Regions from separate parts of the Homo sapiens genome. Here region 2 is linked to region 1. The links come from fine-mapping of genetic effects on gene expression. Tissue or cell type: whole blood. Region 1 holds a variant in brackets; the other region holds the start of a gene. All regions are shown on one strand. Distances are from middle to middle.

Region 1 (11,622 bases):
AAAGAGGGGGTGGTCTTACATGTCATCTAATCCAGCTCTTCACTTCCAGAAAGACCTGAGGAACTAACCAGTACCTCCTGTTTCTAAAGGTCTATGGGAATAAAAACTCTTTGTTCATCCAAGCCAGCACTTGTCAGCCCTCATCGGCAAGGAGTTCCTAGGTCTCACTTCCTATCCCTACCTGGTGCTCACCTCCTCATCTCCTCTGTTTCCCATGAACAAGAAGAACAGCTGGTCAGTTGCCTCTAGGGTGACTGGCTTAATATCTCTCATTTGCTGGGAATAATAGTGAGCAAGAGTTTTCCCTGAGTGAAGCGTGTTGCCTGCTAACTAATACCAGAAGAGCCTCCCTCTGATTCATGTTCTGCAAAAGTGGGTGAGGTAAGGGGAGTGGAGAGAGTCTTGAATGTAAGTGCAGCACACCCAGTTCCTTGAGGAAATGGGAAAGGTGTTTCCATCACACACCTGGGCAATGAATTTTGCTTCCTACAGCACAGCTGCCTTCTGCAAACCATTCCAAATCAAACCAATTTATTCCAAATTCCACTGCAATATCTGTTAATATCTAGTGAGATGTTCAAAGTAAGTTAACCATCTACTAGTTATGGGGGTTCTCTTTTTTTATTTCATCGAGAAACACAGACAAAACTGCTAAGATATGTTTCTGTTGCTAGACCTTAGTCTTATCACAGTTTGAAACTGTAGAAAATCAATTACGTGCTTTGAATTACTCCTCTTCTTGGCGCAAAAGCATTTCTTCATTCTTTCGGGATAGTGAACACTTTGCAACATCTACCACTAACAGCCTGTTAGGATTCTCTGCTAAATTAATGTAGTACAGATAAAGCAAACAGAAGGCTGGTAGAATGCTAAACATCTCCTCTTTCCTCTGTGGCTGGCTCCTTGCAGCTTGGGACCATTCTGCCTTGCTGCTACAACATCTGGACAGCATTCAAGGTTGTTTCTCAAGGACACAAGCTTGCACCTCCGGTGAATTTCAACTTTCAACATCTCTCTGGCTCTAATCTATATTTAATGTTTCATGACTGGTAGTCAAAGAAGCTTCAGCTAAATATCAGGTTGGAATGAAAATGATCCTTGGGAGAACATTCGCTTCCAGCGTGCGCCAGCAAAGTGTCTGTGACAGAGGCTTTCCCCAGAGATTTGTTGCCCATTCTTTTGCAGTAATAATAATTATGCCTTATGATTGCTGTGCCTACATAATCAAAGATCGCTTCATCAAATGTGATCCCCAGGGGAAACTGCCTCTACTCCTAACCGGATGTCAGTCACAGAGAGCAGCACCCTTAGGGATCCCCAATCTTTTGCTTGCCCTTTTCAGTACTGTGTTGTTAGCATTGTGTTTCTTCATATTCTTCTCAATGCAAATGATGTGTAAATCATGCCCTCCAGAAGGCACATGTGGTGAGGGGGAGAGGGTGGGGAGGGAGGTGGGGGCTGGTGTATTCTCTTCCAGCCCCCTCCTTAACCTACTACAGGGATTTCTCACATGGAGCATAATTACATCTGTGCCATATGGGCTCATTTATATTCTATAACAGGTTAAGCTAATACGACTCAGAAATATGCTAAAAATACCTCAAAGTATTCTAGAGCTGTCAAAATACTTGTCATTTCTTGCTCACCCATTTGATTGCTAGTGTTTTTATTTTTGTTGGGAGATTTGAAGAGCTAAGAAAGCATGCTGGTGTGCTGGTGTCCAGTCTATAAATACAGTTTAATTTCCTGTACTGTTATAATACTTGGGTTTGCAAAAAAAAAAAATCTTTCTTTATAATCCTGGAATGGCCCCAAGACATGGGCACTGAAGCCCCTATACTTGTAGATTTTAATTTCCCAAGAGGTAGAAAATACAGATTTCAGATGTGCGGTTTTGTCAGCTTTAGAATATTTCTTGTCTTTGTTTGATGTAATTATTCATTGTGATAGAGAAACACCTGCAGCGGGCTGACATACCATAGAAACATGCTGCTTGAGTTAGTTATAAGAGTTTGTTTGGATGTCAGACAAATCTTGTCAAGATTTTACATGTGGCATGATAATGAGAAGTACAATCTGTAATGAGTAATGAGTTCGACAATGATTTACAAGGGCATGTTGGGTTATTTTTATGCAGTGGTTAAAGTCCATCAACATACTAATTTCTACCATCAGTTTGGAAAATTGGTAGGTCATGCTTGTGTAGGCTTTTAACCTAATGGCCTGTTTATGTAATTAATTTTTTCATTATTATTACCTTAACATATTATGGAATTTTAAAAATTAGTCTTGGGAACAGAATAGCAAGCACAAATATTTTACTTTTCCATGCTTGACAAGCAACATTTCCAAGGTTTATAAGGTGCTAATCACATCAGCCATCAGTGAAACACACCATTTAACTGAAAACTAAACTCATACAAAGCCATACTTTTCTTATTTGCTAATAACTGTTCTATGCGAGCTGGTTGATAGAGTGGTTAAGACTACCTGGGCTCCAATCTCAATTCTGCCACTTGCTAGCTTATTATCTCGGCAAATGCCTTAATTTTTCTAGTGCTCAGTTCCCCCAACTGTAAAATGAGCCTAATAACCATAGCTATCCCCAAGGGATTGTGGAAAGTATAAAACAAGATAATATAGTAAATCTTTAGGCACAATGTCTAACACTTAGTAATCACTTCGTAAGTATTAGTTATTATCACTGGTATTGATTTTGGTTTTAACATAAACAGCTTTTAATATAATTATATGACTCTTTTAATTAAAAAATACATTTTACCAAAATCATGTTAGTTGCACAAACTTCCATTTATCTTAGATCATGCAGGCCAGAGATTCTTGACATTTTTGAATCACATAACCAAGTTCTTACTTCATTTAGAATCAGTAGGTATTTCATGGCTGGCTTAGGAAGAAAGGGAAAAATTCAGTGTTAATGTACCAAAGACAGGTTTTTCTATTTAAAGTATTATTTTGAAATATTTGTACCTTAAGATTATTCAGGACACAATGTATTTGAACTCCTGCAATTGAAATGTTACATTTAAATAAGAAGGAATTCTAGTTTATAGTAAGCAAATGATTGAGCCAGTAACTATAGCCAAGTTTTGAAAATTTGCTTCTTTAAATCCTTAGTAAAGAGCGATTTGAATACTGTGAAGGTAGATGTGTGTTTAACACTCTACTGTAGATACATGTACACAAGAGAATCTAATTTTGAAGTCTTCATTTAAGTGTTTCTATTCAGCCTCTTGACCTTGGAGAGAGTCATGTGCCTTCCTAGTTACAAGATTGGGCTCTAGATCAGGGGTCCCCAAACACCAGGGCCACACAACAGCAGGGGAGTTGGGCTGGGGGGCAAGGGAGAGAAGGTTCATCTGTTTTTTACAGCCACTCCCCATTGCTCACATTACTGTTTGAGCTCCACCTCCTATCAGATCAGCAGTGGCATTAGATTAGATTCTCACAGGAGGGCAAACCCTGTTGTAAATTGTGCATATGAGGGATCTAGGCTGCATACCCCTTATGAGAATCTAATGCCTGATGATCTGTCACTGTCTCCCATCACTCCCATATGGAACTGTCTAGTTGCAGGAAAACAAGCTCAGGGCTCCCACTAATTCTACTTTATGGAGAGTTGTATAATTATTTCATTATATATTACAATGTAATAATAGTAGGCACAAAGTGCACAATAAATGGAATGTGCTTGAATTATCCCAAAACCATCTTCTCACTCCACCCCCGCCACCCCTCCTCTGCTCTCCAGTCCATGGAAAAATTGTCTTCCATAATACCAGTCCCTGGTGCCAAAAATGTTGAGGACCACTGCTCTAGATGACCTCTCAGGCCTTTCCCTCATCTTCAGGCTAGTTATACTACCATAAAAGTGGAATAAAGTTCCTATGGTAAGAAGGGCTATAAGTTGCCTAGTCACTGCACACTTTGTATGTTTGAATTGAAGGTCTAATGTAAATCTGATGTAAATATAGGGATCTTCTTTTTCACTCATCTTGGCTTTGTGGTTAGGGATGGGGCGATGGCAAAGCGAGATACAGGCAGCCTTTTACAAATGAGCATCCCCACCCCGTGTTCTGGCCAGGCTGTAGGCAGTAGGTTTTCAGACAAGAGTGGCAAGGATTTGAAATTAGTAGCCAGGGAAATAGCAGTGTGATTTCAGATTCTCATGACTTAGGAAATTCCATGCTTAAAAGCGATATTTTTTCAGCTTTTAGACAATGTTTTCTTTCCTCTCAAAATTACTCCAGACTTTTCTGCAGAGATTACAACATGAACTTTCAATGGTTAAAATTCAGCCACATTTTCTTTTTAGTTTTCTTGTGTCAGTTGTATTGTAAATTGGTTTAAATTAAAAATAAAAAAATTTCCAAAATGATAAATGGGATTTTTCCTCAGACCGAGTCAGCATGAGATTAATGCTTTCACAATTTTGTACAATTTCAAATCAAATGTCATGTGATTCAATCCTAAATCTTTTCTTATATTATCTTCCCTAACCTATTTCTTTATTGTCAACATGAGACTACAGAGGATGTTAGAGAGAAGGACAGGTAGAAATCTACTTGATTGAGAGTCAAGGAGGGGGGGGGTCTTTTTCTCTGTGGAGTTTCTTTTAATAGGTCAGGGATAAAAACCTTTAGGAAAAGCTGAAACTAAAAGTGAAACATAAGACGACCACTAGGTTCACAAACACAAACATGTATTTTGTTCCCGGGGTGGAGAGAAGGGTGCGTTTGTGTGTATTTACTTTTACTTTGAACCAGACTTAATTACAAATTTAAAATTAACTGACATTCTCTTTAAATATGCTTACTTCAGTGTACCTTACCAAAGGACAAAGACCCCACAGTTGAAGCCTATCCGCTCAACTTATCCCTGAATGGGAGAAGCATCTACTAAAGCAATCTAAGTTATAACCATTCTAGTTTTCCATGCCAGATTTGGATGCTTAAGCTTTAGAAACATAGCTACTGTTTTCCCATATTTTCTGTAAAGGACATGTGTCCTCTCTAGAAGGAAAGCTTACTTCAAATTTGAACATCTCCATTTGGAGAACTTTTGGACAGAAACACAACTTTCTAGAGTTTCAATTGACTGAAAAGAAAACTCTTATATGGAAAAAATACCGTCTGAAGATGAAAGAAAATTCAGAAATTGGCTGTAAAACTGTGTCACATCTCACATTACCTAAGTGAACTAACACACAGAAGACAGTGGGAAATCTGGGAGCTGTGACTAAATTATTTATTTTTAAAAATGCTCTTATGAAATTTAATGCACCAGAGATAATATGTTTACTCTCTTTTGTTGTTTTTTGTTAATGATTTTTTCCCTATTTTTTTGTAGGAAATTTAGAAAATAATAAAGATACATAGAAAACAATAAATTTCACCCAGAGATAAATACCACTGACATTTTATTTCCTCAAGTCTTTTCTCTATGCACAAAGATATATTTAAGAAAATGGAATTGTACTACATATAAAATTAAATATCTTGGATTCCCTACTCCCTTAGCATTTTTTAATCATTTCTTCATGTCTTTAACTATTTTTTCCAAAATTCTGTTTTTAATGACTGTATAATATTTCATTGCACAGTTGTAGCATAACTTTGTTTTCCTTAATTTACCTTTTGGGGTTTTAACTTCTTGGTGATCTCCATATGCATGAATCATCTTTCTAGTGTCTTGTGATCTTAGATCCCCGACCTCTTTTTCCCTCATTGTGTGGCCTCCCCTCTGCAGTCCCCACTCCCATGGGCAGGCCTTGCTAGACCATGCTATTTCGTTCTCTCAATGTCATGTATTACATGTGATCAACATTGCCCGACTTTCTCTCTAATACTCTAACCTGACTGGGACCTCCAATTCTTCTACCACCCTTTCACTGTCCATCACCACTTCACGTCCTTACTCCCCTCCATACCCAGCTGAATTCCATCCTCAATAATCACTCTCAATTGCACACACCTTCAAGGAAAAAAATTTCCTTGCTGCTTTTCTACTTTTTTTAATGCTTGTTTGAAAAAAACCACAGGTTTTTAAAATTAAACTCTCTGCATTCTCTGTATCTGCACCTGGGTAACTTACTGGAGCTGGAGAAGAAAAGAACACAACCATGCTGATTGATCTCACTTTAAATTCATAAGCACAAACTCAAGTGAACCCGTCCTGATTCCACTAATCACCCTACGCCTCTTTAGTCCATTTGTTCACCCGTTCACTGACTATTTGATATTCTCTTTTTTCTCCTCGAATCTCTGACATTTCCTCCTCCCATCTGTATTGTCTTAGCTGATGATATTGCATTCTACTT[CA/C]CTGAGAAAACTGAAGCAATTAGAAGAGAACTTCCCCTGACCCTTATAATCACATGTCCACACTCATTCCATCTGCCTCTCATCTGCTACATTCCCACCTGCTATCATAGATAAGGTCTCCATTTTGCTAACTAAAGCCAGTCCCTCCAGCCATGACTAGTTCCCATCCGGGACACTGCCTTAGCAATTATCTTTTCTGACTCCTATATTATCACAATGTTTCTTCTCTACTGGATCATTCCCAGTAGCTTACAGACATGCTGTTATTCTCCCATCTTTCCCTACAAGTTATCACCTCATTTCTTTGGATTGCTTGCCTCAAAACTTGTTGAAAGGGATGTCTTTAGTAGCCATTTCTGATTCCTCTCCTTTATTATCTTCTGAATCCTCCCCAGTCTGGCTTTTGCTTCCCTCGACTCCTTCACTGAAACTGCTCTTGTCAAGATCACTAGTGACTTCCATGTTGCTAACTGCAGTGGCCAATTCTCACTTCTCATTTTACTTGACCCGTCTTCGTTTGGCTCTGGGACAACACACTGTCTTGAATTTCCTCCTATCTTCCTAGCTGCTTCTTCTTTGTCTCATTTGCTGACTTCTCCTTTTCTACCTTCCCTCTGAATGTTGATCTCCAGTGCTCAGTTCTTGATTCTCTTTTCTTCTCTATCTTTACTTCCTTTTTTAGGCGATTTCATCTAATCTCATGGCTTTAAATACCACTTAAATGCCTAAGACTCCTAAATTTACCTCTTCATCCCACACCTCTCTCCTGACTCCAGGCTCACATACAGTTATCTACTAACGTCTTTATTTGGTTGTCTCAATTGAATATGTCAAAAACAGAACTCCCAATATGGCCCCCTCACTTGTTCTTCTGGCGGCCACTCCCATCTCAATTGATGGAAACACCATCTTCCCAGGGCTCAGGTCACAACCTTGAGATCATTCTTGACTCATAGTTTTCTCATGTTCCATATCCAATTCATCAGAAAATCTCTTGCTCTACCTTCATCCTATATCCATAACATGACTATTTCTCAGTGCTACCTCTGCTGCCGCCTTGGTCTGCACCACCGTCATCAGCTTCCTAACCTTTCTGTTTCTATCTTTGTTCTACCCACCATCTAGTCTCAGCACAGAAGCCAGAGTGACCCTTTTAAACCTAAATATGGACCCAGTGGGGGGGCTTGCTGGCTTGCGCCTGTAATCTCAACACTTTTGGAGGCTGAGGCAGGAGGATTGCTTGAAGCCAGGAGTTTGAGATCAGCCAGGGTAACATAGGGAGACCCTCTCTCTACAAACAAAATTAAAAATTAGCCAGACATGGTAGTGTGCACCTGTAGTCCCAGCAACTTAGGTGGCTGAGGTAGGAGGATCACTTGTGCCCAGGAATTCTAGACTGCAGTGAGCTAGAATTATACCACTATACTCCAGCTTGGACAACAGAGTGAGACCCTGTCTCAAACAAACAAACAAAAAACCAAAAATACCCTACTTCTCTGCTCAGAATTTTGTAACAGCTCCCAGTTTATTCAGAGTAAAAGCCAAAGTCCTTACAATGGTCTGCTAGGCCCTAAGTGTTCGGATCCCAGTTACCTGTCTGATCCTTTTTCTCTTTGCCCAATTTGCCCTGCTCTAGCCACATTGGCCTCCTTGTTGTTCCTCAAACATGCCAGACAAACTCCCCTCTCAGGCCCTTTGCATTGGCTGTTACTTTAGCCTGAAAAGCTCTTCAGTCTTTATGCTAATACCACTTCTCAATAAGCCTGCTCTGCCTCTTTATGCTATATTGTGCCCCAACACCTCCTGCTCTCCTATTATAGTACCTTCCTTCTTCTTTTCCTCCCCATATTATATGGAAACGCTTCTTGTATTGTATAAAAAGCTTCTAACAAGCTACATAATTTATTTATTTATTATGCTTGTGTCTATTATCAGCATTCCTATCTCAAACTTAAGCTTTCACAGTGTCAGGGTCTTCGTTTTTTGTTCACTGAGATATTCTAAACACTGAGAACAATGTCTGACACATAGTAAGTATTCAATAAATATTTGTTCAAAAACCTTCAATAAATAATAAGCCTATTTATATAGAAAAGGCAAACATTTAAAGGCACGTTAACCTTCTTACTTCAGTCTATATTTGTTTTGAAAAACCTGCCTTCTGAAGTGAACTATAATTCCTAACTTTGGTTTGAATCCCCTCACATGAAGCTTCATGTTTCTATTCTTTAGAGAACATAACTTTCAAAAATGTTTTGAGGATGAATAAAATGAGATAGAATAACCAAGCAAGCCAAATAGCTAAGTGAAAAATTAGAACAACCATCTGGATATTTCAGTTACAAGAATTTCAGTGGTGAACTCCTGTTGAGCAGTGGAATATATAACTCCCAGCAGAAATACTTTAATTTGTGGATTGGAGGATAAAGAGTGGTGGGTTGGAATGGGTATACTGGGGTGGGGTTGGGGATTAGGAGTGAAAAGGAAGTGGAAAGTAAAATGGTAGGAAGATGGCTGTGCTAGCAAAGGCATCAAATACCTAACTCGCATAAATGACCATGCCTATATGTTACAGGTTGGAAATGCCTACGTTTTTTAAACAGATAAATTGCACACATTTACTGTACAGCATAAAAAGGATGACATTTATCTTTTCCTTGGGTCTGAAATGTATTTCTATCACTTGGCTGGTTTGTTTTTAACTCACACTGAAAACCGAACTGTAAGAAGTTTGCCTAAACTTCTCCCCCACCCCATGTTATACAGCCTCAGCTCATGCTATTACTCCAAATACAATAATCTGTTGGGAAAAATCAGGGTGATTTTAAAGAGATCATTTTCAAGTATGAAAGCATTTGAAACCAGTTGGGAAGACAGGAGGGGCAATAGCTAAACAAATACCTGCATTAGTCAAGGAGCACTCAGAAACAGGGCTCGACCTGCTGGGAGAGGATTTTGCTAAGGAAAGCCTGTACTCACAGAAGAAGGAAGCAAAACGGCCTCATAGGAAACCAGTCATGTGTGTGTACACTGTCTGCAGCCATTTTCAGTCACTTTGGTTTGAATCACCTCACATGAAGCTTCATGTTTCTATTCTTCAGAGAAAATAACTTGATTTAGAGAAAAAAACCTGATCAGTTTTAATCAGAGTTTCCTATTTGTATGTTTTTCCAGTTTACTTCTAGTGTTGAGAAAAATTATTATTTAATGGTGAGCATAGGGTAGGATGGGGCAGGAGTAGGGGATGGGGGAACTCTCACAAAGTAATCACTCTCCTTCCTTAATATTGCCATGTTTTACTTATTTAGGAGAAATAAAAAGAAAGTAAAAGAAGTCATTATAAGGCCCCAACAAGGATATTCAAGTCTCAGAAGGGCAGCAGGTAGCCAGGGGAGCAGAGTGCTGGTTTTTTAGGAGAACAGAGAAAACTGGCCAGTAGCAGAAGAGAGACAGGAATGCTAGGATGGGTGGATGTTGGAGACGCTGACATTTACAACAGAATAGTGATACAATGCTTTATTGAGAAGGGAGCACTTGAGCCAAGACCTAAAGGGAGTGGGGCCATAAGTGATGGGTAGCAAAGACCCTGGAATGGGGACTTACATGGTGGGTTTGAATAATTTCAAGGATGCTATGTGGCTGGAGTTGAGTGACCCTGCTTTATTTCTCCCTGTAACATTCAGCACCGTCTGACGTGTGATACATTTTCTTATTCATTTGTTCTTTTTCTATATCCCCAGCACTTAGAATGGTGCCTAGAACATAGTAGCTGCTGTAAGGGTGCAGTGCTTTGCAACCAAGATCTTCTTCAAAATGAAGACTCCTGTGAGTGCTGCCAAAAGACAGTTCTCACCTATCAGCCCTCATTGGAGATTGCCTATGGCCAAAATTACACAAGACCTGATCAAGCAAAGGTATTGTGAAGATTGACTGAGCAGAGATATAAAAGCCTGGACACCATGCCCCAACTTGGGACAACTCTGAAGGGCCACAAGTTCCAACACTTCCCATGGAGTTGCCTGAACCCTTTGCTGAGACCACATCAAAGCTCAACTTTTCCCTTTGCCCAGTTTTGCTTCCTTTCACTCCTTTTCACAGGTATTGATTTCAAGAGCCCTCCCTGTTTAATGTGCTCTGTCTCATAGCCTGCTGCTCAGAGAACTCTCAAATCTCTTCTTTCTCTGGTCCACTGAGAATAACTGCAAACCCCAAATCCTTCCCTCAGTTTCAAACACATTTCAATCAATATCTTTATGGGGTCTGAGAGGTTGAATTATTTTATCTGACTCTTTATTATTTCCTGTGTCTACATTCTATGCCTGGTAGTTTTGCATTTTCTGCAACTAAAGATGGAATGTCCTTCTCAGCCTCTTAATTTTGGGCTGGACTATGTGTTTTGCTTTGGCTAATAGAATGTTAGCAGATGTGATGCAAAAAGCAGTTTGAAAAGTGCTTGCGTGGTTGGGCTTGCCATTTGGTGTGCCTCTGCCATCACCATGAGAGGAATGTACCCTGAATAACTCAATGGGACCAAAAAGGATGAAAGACATGTGAGGAAGACCCAGACCTGCAGACCTGCAATGTGAAGCAAAACCTGCCCAGCTGACTCAAACATCTGGAGAAACAAAATAATTTTTTTCAGTCACTGAATTTTGAAGTTGTTTGTAATACACCATTGTGGCAAAGGCTAATTGCTGCAAGATGTAATTCTTACCACAGTAAAGTCAAATGTTTACATCTTTATGCAAAGTAGTTTAGCTACTTGTCCCAATTGTCTCCATTCCAGAGTAGCATTTTAGCTTTAACTTTGCATAATGAAAATGCATGTTAGAATTATTTCTCATAATGAAAAGAGAAGTCTTCTTATAAAGGTGAATTTTTTCTCTATCTATGGAGGTAGAAAACCTATAACTACTTTTAAAGGGCAACTTTCTTATTTCTGAAAAAATATGTGAAAGCTTAGCTGTGCATTGTGCTTCAGACGAAAATCCAGATTTACCAAGAAGACAAATTAGTGAGTGATTGGTTTTCTTTCTGATCTTTCTGATGCAGTATTTATCCATAAATATGCCCTTCATTTATAAAAATATTTTTTGGAATAATGATTCTCTTAGTATGTCTGTCTCCTGCCACTGGATTCTATGTCTCCTAAGAATGGACAGGAACAGCATCCTGTTCATCTTATGTCTCCAGTAGCAATTCCAGGGCCTGGCTCATTGTAATTGGTCAACAGTTGCTTGTTGAGTTTCTTTATAATTAAATGCAGATCCCGTAGTAATTC
Region 2 (9,218 bases), 36 kb before region 1:
CAAGAAACGAACAAGAAGAAAACGATTTGATCAGACTGTAATTTTAACAGATGCATAACATTATTTCCCTCATACACAAACAAATCATCTAGAAGGGAGAACAGAAATGTTGACTTACAGAAGCACAAGTCTTACTTATTCTCCTAAAATGTCTGCACTGAAATGATTGCAAACTCAGCACCCCACATCTTAGCCAATCAGAGAGGCCTCTTTAAACACATGAGGCGTAAGGTTTTAATTTACAAGGACCCATCTCTATTTCTTTCCCAGGGCCTCGAAGAAGGACTACATTCTAAATCTAATATAAATGCCTGTATGTTCTACAAAAGTTTTCCCAGATAGTGTACACCATTTCCAATTGCACAATGACAATGACAACAGAACTAATTAAAACAGAGTCATGAGGTACTTTTTATATGCACTTTTTTTTTTGGCGAAACTGATGTTTAAGTAATGTATTTAGCAAAGTCTCCTATTATAGTTTAATCTTTTAATTACAAGAAAATTTGGGTTAATTATTATCCTACCTTGATGAAAATTCAGTGATGGTGATTTTTCCCCTTTCATACTTCTTATCTTTTTTTTTTAAATAAAAAATGTGTTTTGTGAGATTTGTGTACAAGTAATCCATGATTCATATTTAGAACTACTGAGCCACACCTTTATATTAAATCTTTGAGTCTTGCCATGTTTAAAATGTAAATTATAACAAATTATGGCTGACTCTCAAATAATAAGTTAGTTCAGGATCTTAATATCAATCAGGATCTTAATATCAATCAGCTGTAAGTACTCTATAAGATAAAAGTCAAGGTAATCACACTGAAAATCTCTTTTGATAAGTGGTTTTACAGAAAGATAGATAAATAAATATATATATATATATTTTTAAAGAGAGTCTACAAATTGAGCCTCTGTGTGTGAATGAATTCAATAACTATTTTACCAATGTCGAGAGCAGATTTGTATGAGAAAGAAAGAAAAAACAAAGAAAGAAAAGACATTCATTTTTAGAATTGTTGCAGAAGAATACAGATGTTATGGAAAATAAGAAATAGCTTATGTAGTAATTTCTGGGTTGGAAATTCAAGAAGAAATGAAATAGAGAACTATGCTGAAAGCTTTAGTAGAGTTATACCTAATGTGTCTCTACAAAGACAATATAATAGACCCCTAGGTGGTGCCACCCAGAAAGAAGGGAATAGTATGGTCTGAGTTTTCTCTACCACCATCAGCTCCCTAAGCAATCAACTTCCCTTCACTAGGAATTCAAGAAGAGTCAGGAACTCAAAGCATAGCAGGCCAAGTTCTCACTTTCTACAACTGACATTCAAAAGTAATATAGGGTGAGAGTCCAACCTTATAAAATAAAAATTCAAAATATAGTAGGTCTAATTCAGCATTTTTCAAGTTGAATCTCACAGAGCATTAATGTCAAGCAAAATATTGATGCAGTGTAATATATATGTGTGTCTATGTATGTGTGTATGTATATACATGTGTGTATTCCAAGTGTGTGTATGTATATGTATATTCCAAATGTGGGAAATACTAAATAAGAAAAAAGTTTAAAAGGGTTCTTAAGCTCAGCAATTCTCAGAGATTATATTAGGCTAATGTGAATCTCCAATAAGGACACAGAATATGGCCTTTTTCCAAACTTATTTGAACAAATTTATTTCACAGAATGCCTTTGGAGAAGATATTGTATTTCACAGAACACAGTTTGGAAAATGCTGGTCTAACTCATTAGTGAATCCCAGCATTTAAGCCCCTAGCATATATATCCTGGTATAGAAAACTATGTTAAATACCGAGCAATCATCTGGTGTGCTCCCAGAAACCACATTTTCTTCTACAATTTTTTCAGTGGACATGATCACATAATGTTACTAACTGGAAGTCCATGGACCTTGGTCAGACACAAGCCCCACTCTGGCACTTACTGGCTATGGGATCTTGTACAAATTACTTAATTGTTTTGAGCCTTCAATTCTTCATCAATCAAAAGGAGATAACATAGGGAGGCTGAGTGGGAGGACAGCCTGAGCCCAGGAGTTTGAGACCAGCCTGGGCAACACAGCAAAACCCTGTCTCCACAAAAAATTAAAAAATTAGATGGGCATGATGGTGCATACCTGTAGTCCCAGCTACTAGTGAAGCTAAAGTGGGAAGACTGCTCAAGCCCAGGAGTTTGAGGCTGCAGCGAACTATGATCCTATGATCATGCCAGCTTGGGAGACAGAATGGGACCCTGTCTCTAAAAAAAAAGAAAAAGAAAAAAAAAGGGATAAGATAATTAGTACCTTCCTCAAAGTTTAAGCAACACAACGTATGGATACATCGTGCAAAATAACACCAAGTATACACAGTAGGTGTTCAAAAATATAGTCTTAACCTGTGTTAATCTCTATTCTTCAACAAAGACAATTCAAGTCAGCCACTCACAAGCCAGCAAAAAAGCAACTCACCTAAAAGCTTAAGATCCTTCAGGTTGGGTTGCACATGGAGCGTTCACCTAACTGCCTGTGTGTCTGTGTACACTCAACTATATGTAATTGGAACTGGATCTCCATCCCTGCTAATTATCCACATTCAACCTGACATAAGCAGTCTGGAGAAACTTCAGAAGATTTGGGAAAGGCCTGATAAAACAAGATCTTTGATATGAGAAAACTTGACTGAGTCTGATGCTTGACAAAGCAGTATCAAGGAAGAATTGGGTTATGTTTATAGTTTTGACCTAACTGAAATATTTTTATTACCAAGTTCATAATAGTTCATACTTACTTAGTAATTTTGATCTGTGGATCTCAAACTTTTCCACATCTTGAGAAAATATTACATTTTATATTCTGTTAAAATACACTGCTCATATTTGTCTTCTAATATTTTGTTACCCATTGCCTTCATTACCTCCCCCAACAGACCTCCTTTCATGACCCTGGTTATTACTGACTAAAACTCGGAATTGTTTCTGATTTTAGTACCTTCCTCTGTATTACATAGTTTTGATAAATTAAATATTGTATTTGTATAATAAATGAAAATCAAGTTTGTTGGTTTTTTTTAACTTTGAAAGACAACTCTCAGAAAATGATTTTTTAAAAATGTTATAAGGTCTTTTATTTACACATTCTATTGAGGGAGAACTTCCACAGAAAACTAACTTTTAAAAAAAGATAAAAAGAACTATAGCTACTTAAAATAACATACAAGGATTAAAATAAGCTTCTAATGAAATTCAAGCCAAATAGGGCCATTTAAAGTGAGGCACATCCCTTAATATTTCTGGATCCAATATTCTTAATTGTAGATTGCAGAAAATTAACTCATTTCTCGATGACATTTTTGGTTGCTTCCAGTTTCATAATCTGGTAAGAATGACATTTTTTCTCTCTCTCTCTCTAACTCTAGCTGTACTTCTGAGCCTCCTCGTAGTAAACTTCACTGTCAGGTGAAACATAAAACAAGTTCAAGAATTTCAGTAGAACAACTTTTGAAGCAAGAGAGTGTCTTCTACTCTGAGAAACAGAACTGAGTGCTCTGCCATATCTCTGTGCCCCAACCCCTTAGGGGAGAAGGAGAAGGATTTGGAGTGATGGTAGGGATGGATGGATGTTTAACACGTGATGCTTCTTGGTAATTAACACATCAGAATAAATTCACTTTTCACTCAGCCTAGTCAGCTCGAATGACTTGAGAGAATAGAACACAGGACAGGTTAAATCTTTCCAAGACAGGAGTGATAGGAGAGAGATGGCTTGATAAAGTTCCTAAACATGGGATACTATCAGCAGAGGAATGAGCATCAGAGTGGAAAGGCTAGAGAAAAAGTGTCCCTGGGAGCCTGGGGGCCAGGATGCTAGAGTGAAAATGAACACTTATTGAACGGTTCAAAGGACTTCAGAGAGCTGTGCTTCCCAACCTCCTTTTCAATATCAAAATGTGTCATAAATTACAGTCAACACACGTACACATGCTCACATAATTGTGCATTTAGTACCTGTTGCTTTAAAAAAATGCTAGCAATCAAATACTTTAAAGCAAAAATGCATTTTATGAAGGTACTGCTTATATAAACATTTGAAAAACAATAACATATGTATCTGAGACAAACAGATGTCATTTTGCTTTAGCAGGTAAAGATATGACTGCACCTTCTTTATAGACACCAACATGCTGGGTAGTGAAATTCTCAGAGACTTGTTAGCATGTAGTACAAGTAACACCCATCTAAGTAGTAACCTTTATGTGTAGATGAATGTTAAAGCTTCCTAATGACAGCCTGCCTCAGGTGCCCTCTTTCAGTCACCCTGGAATCACTCCCTGCTTATGTGGGGAAAGTGACCTTCAATAGTTTTCTATTTTCTGTATAATTTGGCCCAAACGTTTTAGTCTGGATTAAAACCTTTTCTCCTGCCTCCCCTCAAAGTGCCTCAGCTACACTCACCTCTCTGGCCCCCTTCAGCAATTCAAGTGAATTTGAGCTTTAATCTTTTGCACCTTGCACCTACCTCTCCGTCAGAACCCCATTTCATCTGAGCTGGTTGCTTTCTATGTGCCTTTTTGGCTTTGGGATGGACACTGTAACAAGTGATTTGCATTTCTGTGCCTCACTGTACTATGCCCCTCTCTAAGGCTGGCACAGGTCTCCTTCATTTTATACTCTACGACCTAAGAGTGCTTATAGCACAATGGGTGGTTGGTATCTATTAAACAAATGAATGTGTAAATGAATGATAGAAAGTAATTGGTGAAAAGTACGCTGAGATAGAGTCTGATCACAGGCAAAAAAAAAAAAAAAATGGAAGAATTAATAGTCCAATGGCACTTTTCTTATAAAACTGAATTACATAGTCAAACCATCATTTAAAATAATCTTACAAGGAAAACAACATTAATGTGCGTCTGTTGAGACGGATTATGCTGTTTTGGAATTAGGAAGAGAATGTGCAGTTCGCTGTTTGCTTTCAGACTGTTTGTTTGTTTTGTTTATTAAACTGGCGTCTCCAGCTCTGCAGCCCAGCCTGTGGAACCTAAATGGCCCAGGTCCCAGGAGTTCCCATCGGAGCCGTGGGCGTCCCCAGGGTTTAGAAAGGCTCCCCAGGGGCCCAAGCTGCCGGCGAGTGCAGCTCCCGCCGGCGCCACCTCTGCGGTCTGGAGCGGCGAGGACGATCCCAGAGAGGCGCCCCCACTGCCTCGGTCGTCGGGTTCTTAAGTTTTTCTCTCCAAAAATTTAATGGATAGTTTTCTTTTGCTTCTGTTTCTGACTTGATTAAAGAGGCGGAAAAAAAGGAGTTTGACTCCAAGAAGAATGATAGTAGCAGAAGGCGCATCTGGCTTTACTTTCCAAATTCCATCAAAGTTTGTGTTTTGTTTCATTTGACAGCGATCCCGTGAACGTCTCCTCTGGGGAAATGGCGCGACCAAAGCCCGCCAAGCCCAGCCTGCGAACTGGAGGATTTATTAATGTAATATGTTAAACAAAACCTCGACAGACACAAACTCAAAGGAAACCGTGCGCTCCTTAAGTCAAAGGCATCTGTTCTGGAAGCAGAACCCGGTTTGCTGTTGGTAACCAGCGTTAAGAGCAGGATTTTTAAACATGATAATGGATAAAATAAAAGAAAAGCGAAGTCCCGCGGTCCTCTGACTCCTATTCATTATCTCCAGCAGCATATGGGACCATTCTCCTACGTATCCTCGCCTTTTTCTTCTGAAAAAGCAAAAGCAACCAAGCCTGTCCCGCTTCAGAGCAATCCTACTCTTTGTGCCTGAGTAGTGCCACCACCACTACTTCCTCCTCCTCCCGCCTCCTCCTACCCCGCCCTCCTGCCGCTGGCTTTCGCTCTGGCGAGGAGGCGGCCGGCTCCCTTTGCGCCGGGAAGCCGGAGCCGCGATTGGGCGACGGTCCCTGAGCCTCCAGTTCTGCGTCGGTTTCAAGGCTCCTCCCTCCTGGTGAAAGACAGACTACGGGGCGCCTGGAAACCGGTCCGAGGGCGCGCGAGGCAGAGGAGAGGGAGCGAGTTGAGGGATTGACACAAATGGTCAGGCGGCGGCGGCGGAGAAGGAGGCGGAGGCGCAGGGGGGAGCCGAGCCCGCTGGGCTGCGGAGAGTTGCGCTCTCTACGGGGCCGCGGCCACTAGCGCGGCGCCGCCAGCCGGGAGCCAGCGAGCCGAGGGCCAGGAAGGCGGGACACGACCCCGGCGCGCCCTAGCCACCCGGGTTCTCCCCGCCGCCCGCGCTTCATGAATCGCAAGTTTCCGCGGCGGCGGCGGCTGCGGTACGCAGAACAGGAGCCGGGGGAGCGGGCCGAAAGCGGCTTGGGCTCGACGGAGGGCACCCGCGCAGAGGTCTCCCTGGCCGCAGGGGGAGCCGCCGCCGGCCGTGCCCCTGGCAGCCCCAGCGGAGCGGCGCCAAGAGAGGAGCCGAGAAAGTATGGCTGAGGAGGAGGCGCCTAAGAAGTCCCGGGCCGCCGGCGGTGGCGCGAGCTGGGAACTTTGTGCCGGGGCGCTCTCGGCCCGGCTGGCGGAGGAGGGCAGCGGGGACGCCGGTGGCCGCCGCCGCCCGCCAGTTGACCCCCGGCGATTGGCGCGCCAGCTGCTGCTGCTGCTTTGGCTGCTGGAGGCTCCGCTGCTGCTGGGGGTCCGGGCCCAGGCGGCGGGCCAGGGGCCAGGCCAGGGGCCCGGGCCGGGGCAGCAACCGCCGCCGCCGCCTCAGCAGCAACAGAGCGGGCAGCAGTACAACGGCGAGCGGGGCATCTCCGTCCCGGACCACGGCTATTGCCAGCCCATCTCCATCCCGCTGTGCACGGACATCGCGTACAACCAGACCATCATGCCCAACCTGCTGGGCCACACGAACCAGGAGGACGCGGGCCTGGAGGTGCACCAGTTCTACCCTCTAGTGAAAGTGCAGTGTTCCGCTGAGCTCAAGTTCTTCCTGTGCTCCATGTACGCGCCCGTGTGCACCGTGCTAGAGCAGGCGCTGCCGCCCTGCCGCTCCCTGTGCGAGCGCGCGCGCCAGGGCTGCGAGGCGCTCATGAACAAGTTCGGCTTCCAGTGGCCAGACACGCTCAAGTGTGAGAAGTTCCCGGTGCACGGCGCCGGCGAGCTGTGCGTGGGCCAGAACACGTCCGACAAGGGCACCCCGACGCCCTCGCTGCTTCCAGAGTTCTGGACCAGCAACCCTCAGCACGGCGGCGGAGGGCACCGTGGCGGCTTCCCGGGGGGCGCCGGCGCGTCGGAGCGAGGCAAGTTCTCCTGCCCGCGCGCCCTCAAGGTGCCCTCCTACCTCAACTACCACTTCCTGGGGGAGAAGGACTGCGGCGCACCTTGTGAGCCGACCAAGGTGTATGGGCTCATGTACTTCGGGCCCGAGGAGCTGCGCTTCTCGCGCACCTGGATTGGCATTTGGTCAGTGCTGTGCTGCGCCTCCACGCTCTTCACGGTGCTTACGTACCTGGTGGACATGCGGCGCTTCAGCTACCCGGAGCGGCCCATCATCTTCTTGTCCGGCTGTTACACGGCCGTGGCCGTGGCCTACATCGCCGGCTTCCTCCTGGAAGACCGAGTGGTGTGTAATGACAAGTTCGCCGAGGACGGGGCACGCACTGTGGCGCAGGGCACCAAGAAGGAGGGCTGCACCATCCTCTTCATGATGCTCTACTTCTTCAGCATGGCCAGCTCCATCTGGTGGGTGATCCTGTCGCTCACCTGGTTCCTGGCGGCTGGCATGAAGTGGGGCCACGAGGCCATCGAAGCCAACTCACAGTATTTTCACCTGGCCGCCTGGGCTGTGCCGGCCATCAAGACCATCACCATCCTGGCGCTGGGCCAGGTGGACGGCGATGTGCTGAGCGGAGTGTGCTTCGTGGGGCTTAACAACGTGGACGCGCTGCGTGGCTTCGTGCTGGCGCCCCTCTTCGTGTACCTGTTTATCGGCACGTCCTTTCTGCTGGCCGGCTTTGTGTCGCTCTTCCGCATCCGCACCATCATGAAGCACGATGGCACCAAGACCGAGAAGCTGGAGAAGCTCATGGTGCGCATTGGCGTCTTCAGCGTGCTGTACACTGTGCCAGCCACCATCGTCATCGCCTGCTACTTCTACGAGCAGGCCTTCCGGGACCAGTGGGAACGCAGCTGGGTGGCCCAGAGCTGCAAGAGCTACGCTATCCCCTGCCCTCACCTCCAGGCGGGCGGAGGCGCCCCGCCGCACCCGCCCATGAGCCCGGACTTCACGGTCTTCATGATTAAGTACCTTATGACGCTGATCGTGGGCATCACGTCGGGCTTCTGGATCTGGTCCGGCAAGACCCTCAACTCCTGGAGGAAGTTCTACACGAGGCTCACCAACAGCAAACAAGGGGAGACTACAGTCTGAGACCCGGGGCTCAGCCCATGCCCAGGCCTCGGCCGGGGCGCAGCGATCCCCCAAAGCCAGCGCCGTGGAGTTCGTGCCAATCCTGACATCTCGAGGTTTCCTCACTAGACAACTCTCTTTCGCAGGCTCCTTTGAACAACTCAGCTCCTGCAAAAGCTTCCGTCCCTGAGGCAAAAGGACACGAGGGCCCGACTGCCAGAGGGAGGATGGACAGACCTCTTGCCCTCACACTCTGGTACCAGGACTGTTCGCTTTTATGATTGTAAATAGCCTGTGTAAGATTTTTGTAAGTATATTTGTATTTAAATGACGACCGATCACGCGTTTTTCTTTTTCAAAAGTTTTTAATTATTTAGGGCGGTTTAACCATTTGAGGCTTTTCCTTCTTGCCCTTTTCGGAGTATTGCAAAGGAGCTAAAACTGGTGTGCAACCGCACAGCGCTCCTGGTCGTCCTCGCGCGCCTCTCCCTACCACGGGTGCTCGGGACGGCTGGGCGCCAGCTCCGGGGCGAGTTCAGCACTGCGGGGTGCGACTAGGGCTGCGCTGCCAGGGTCACTTCCCGCCTCCTCCTTTTGCCCCCTCCCCCTCCTTCTGTCCCCTCCCTTTCTTTCCTGGCTTGAGGTAGGGGCTCTTAAGGTACAGAACTCCACAAACCTTCCAAATCTGGAGGAGGGCCCCCATACATTACAATTCCTCCCTTGCTCGGCGGTGGATTGCGAAGGCCCGTCCCTTCGACTTCCTGAAGCTGGATTTTTAACTGTCCAGAACTTTCCTCCAACTTCATGGGGGCCCACGGGTGTGGGCGCTGGCAGTCTCAGCCTCCCTCCACGGT

Evidence for each region. PIP is the estimated chance that this variant, and not a neighbour inherited with it, causes the effect.
Region 2: it holds the start of FZD1, and the variant in region 1 is fine-mapped to the expression of FZD1 in whole blood (TOPMed, PIP 0.94).

Annotation. Positions count from the first base shown.
Region 1 is chr7:91,293,688-91,305,309 of GRCh38, forward strand. No RefSeq gene overlaps it. Among named protein-coding and RNA genes, the nearest start is that of LINC02932, 12 kb to the right of the region's middle. RefSeq lists an enhancer at 452-2,457. The variant CA/C (reference allele first, on the strand shown) is at 6,341.
Region 2 is chr7:91,258,440-91,267,657 of GRCh38, forward strand. It overlaps FZD1 (frizzled class receptor 1), which reads left to right and starts at 5,994. Exons shown (of 1, transcript NM_003505.2): 1 at 5,994-9,218. The coding sequence starts at 6,442. The coding sequence ends at 8,385. RefSeq lists an enhancer at 5,779-5,958 and silencers at 6,079-6,588, 6,679-6,738.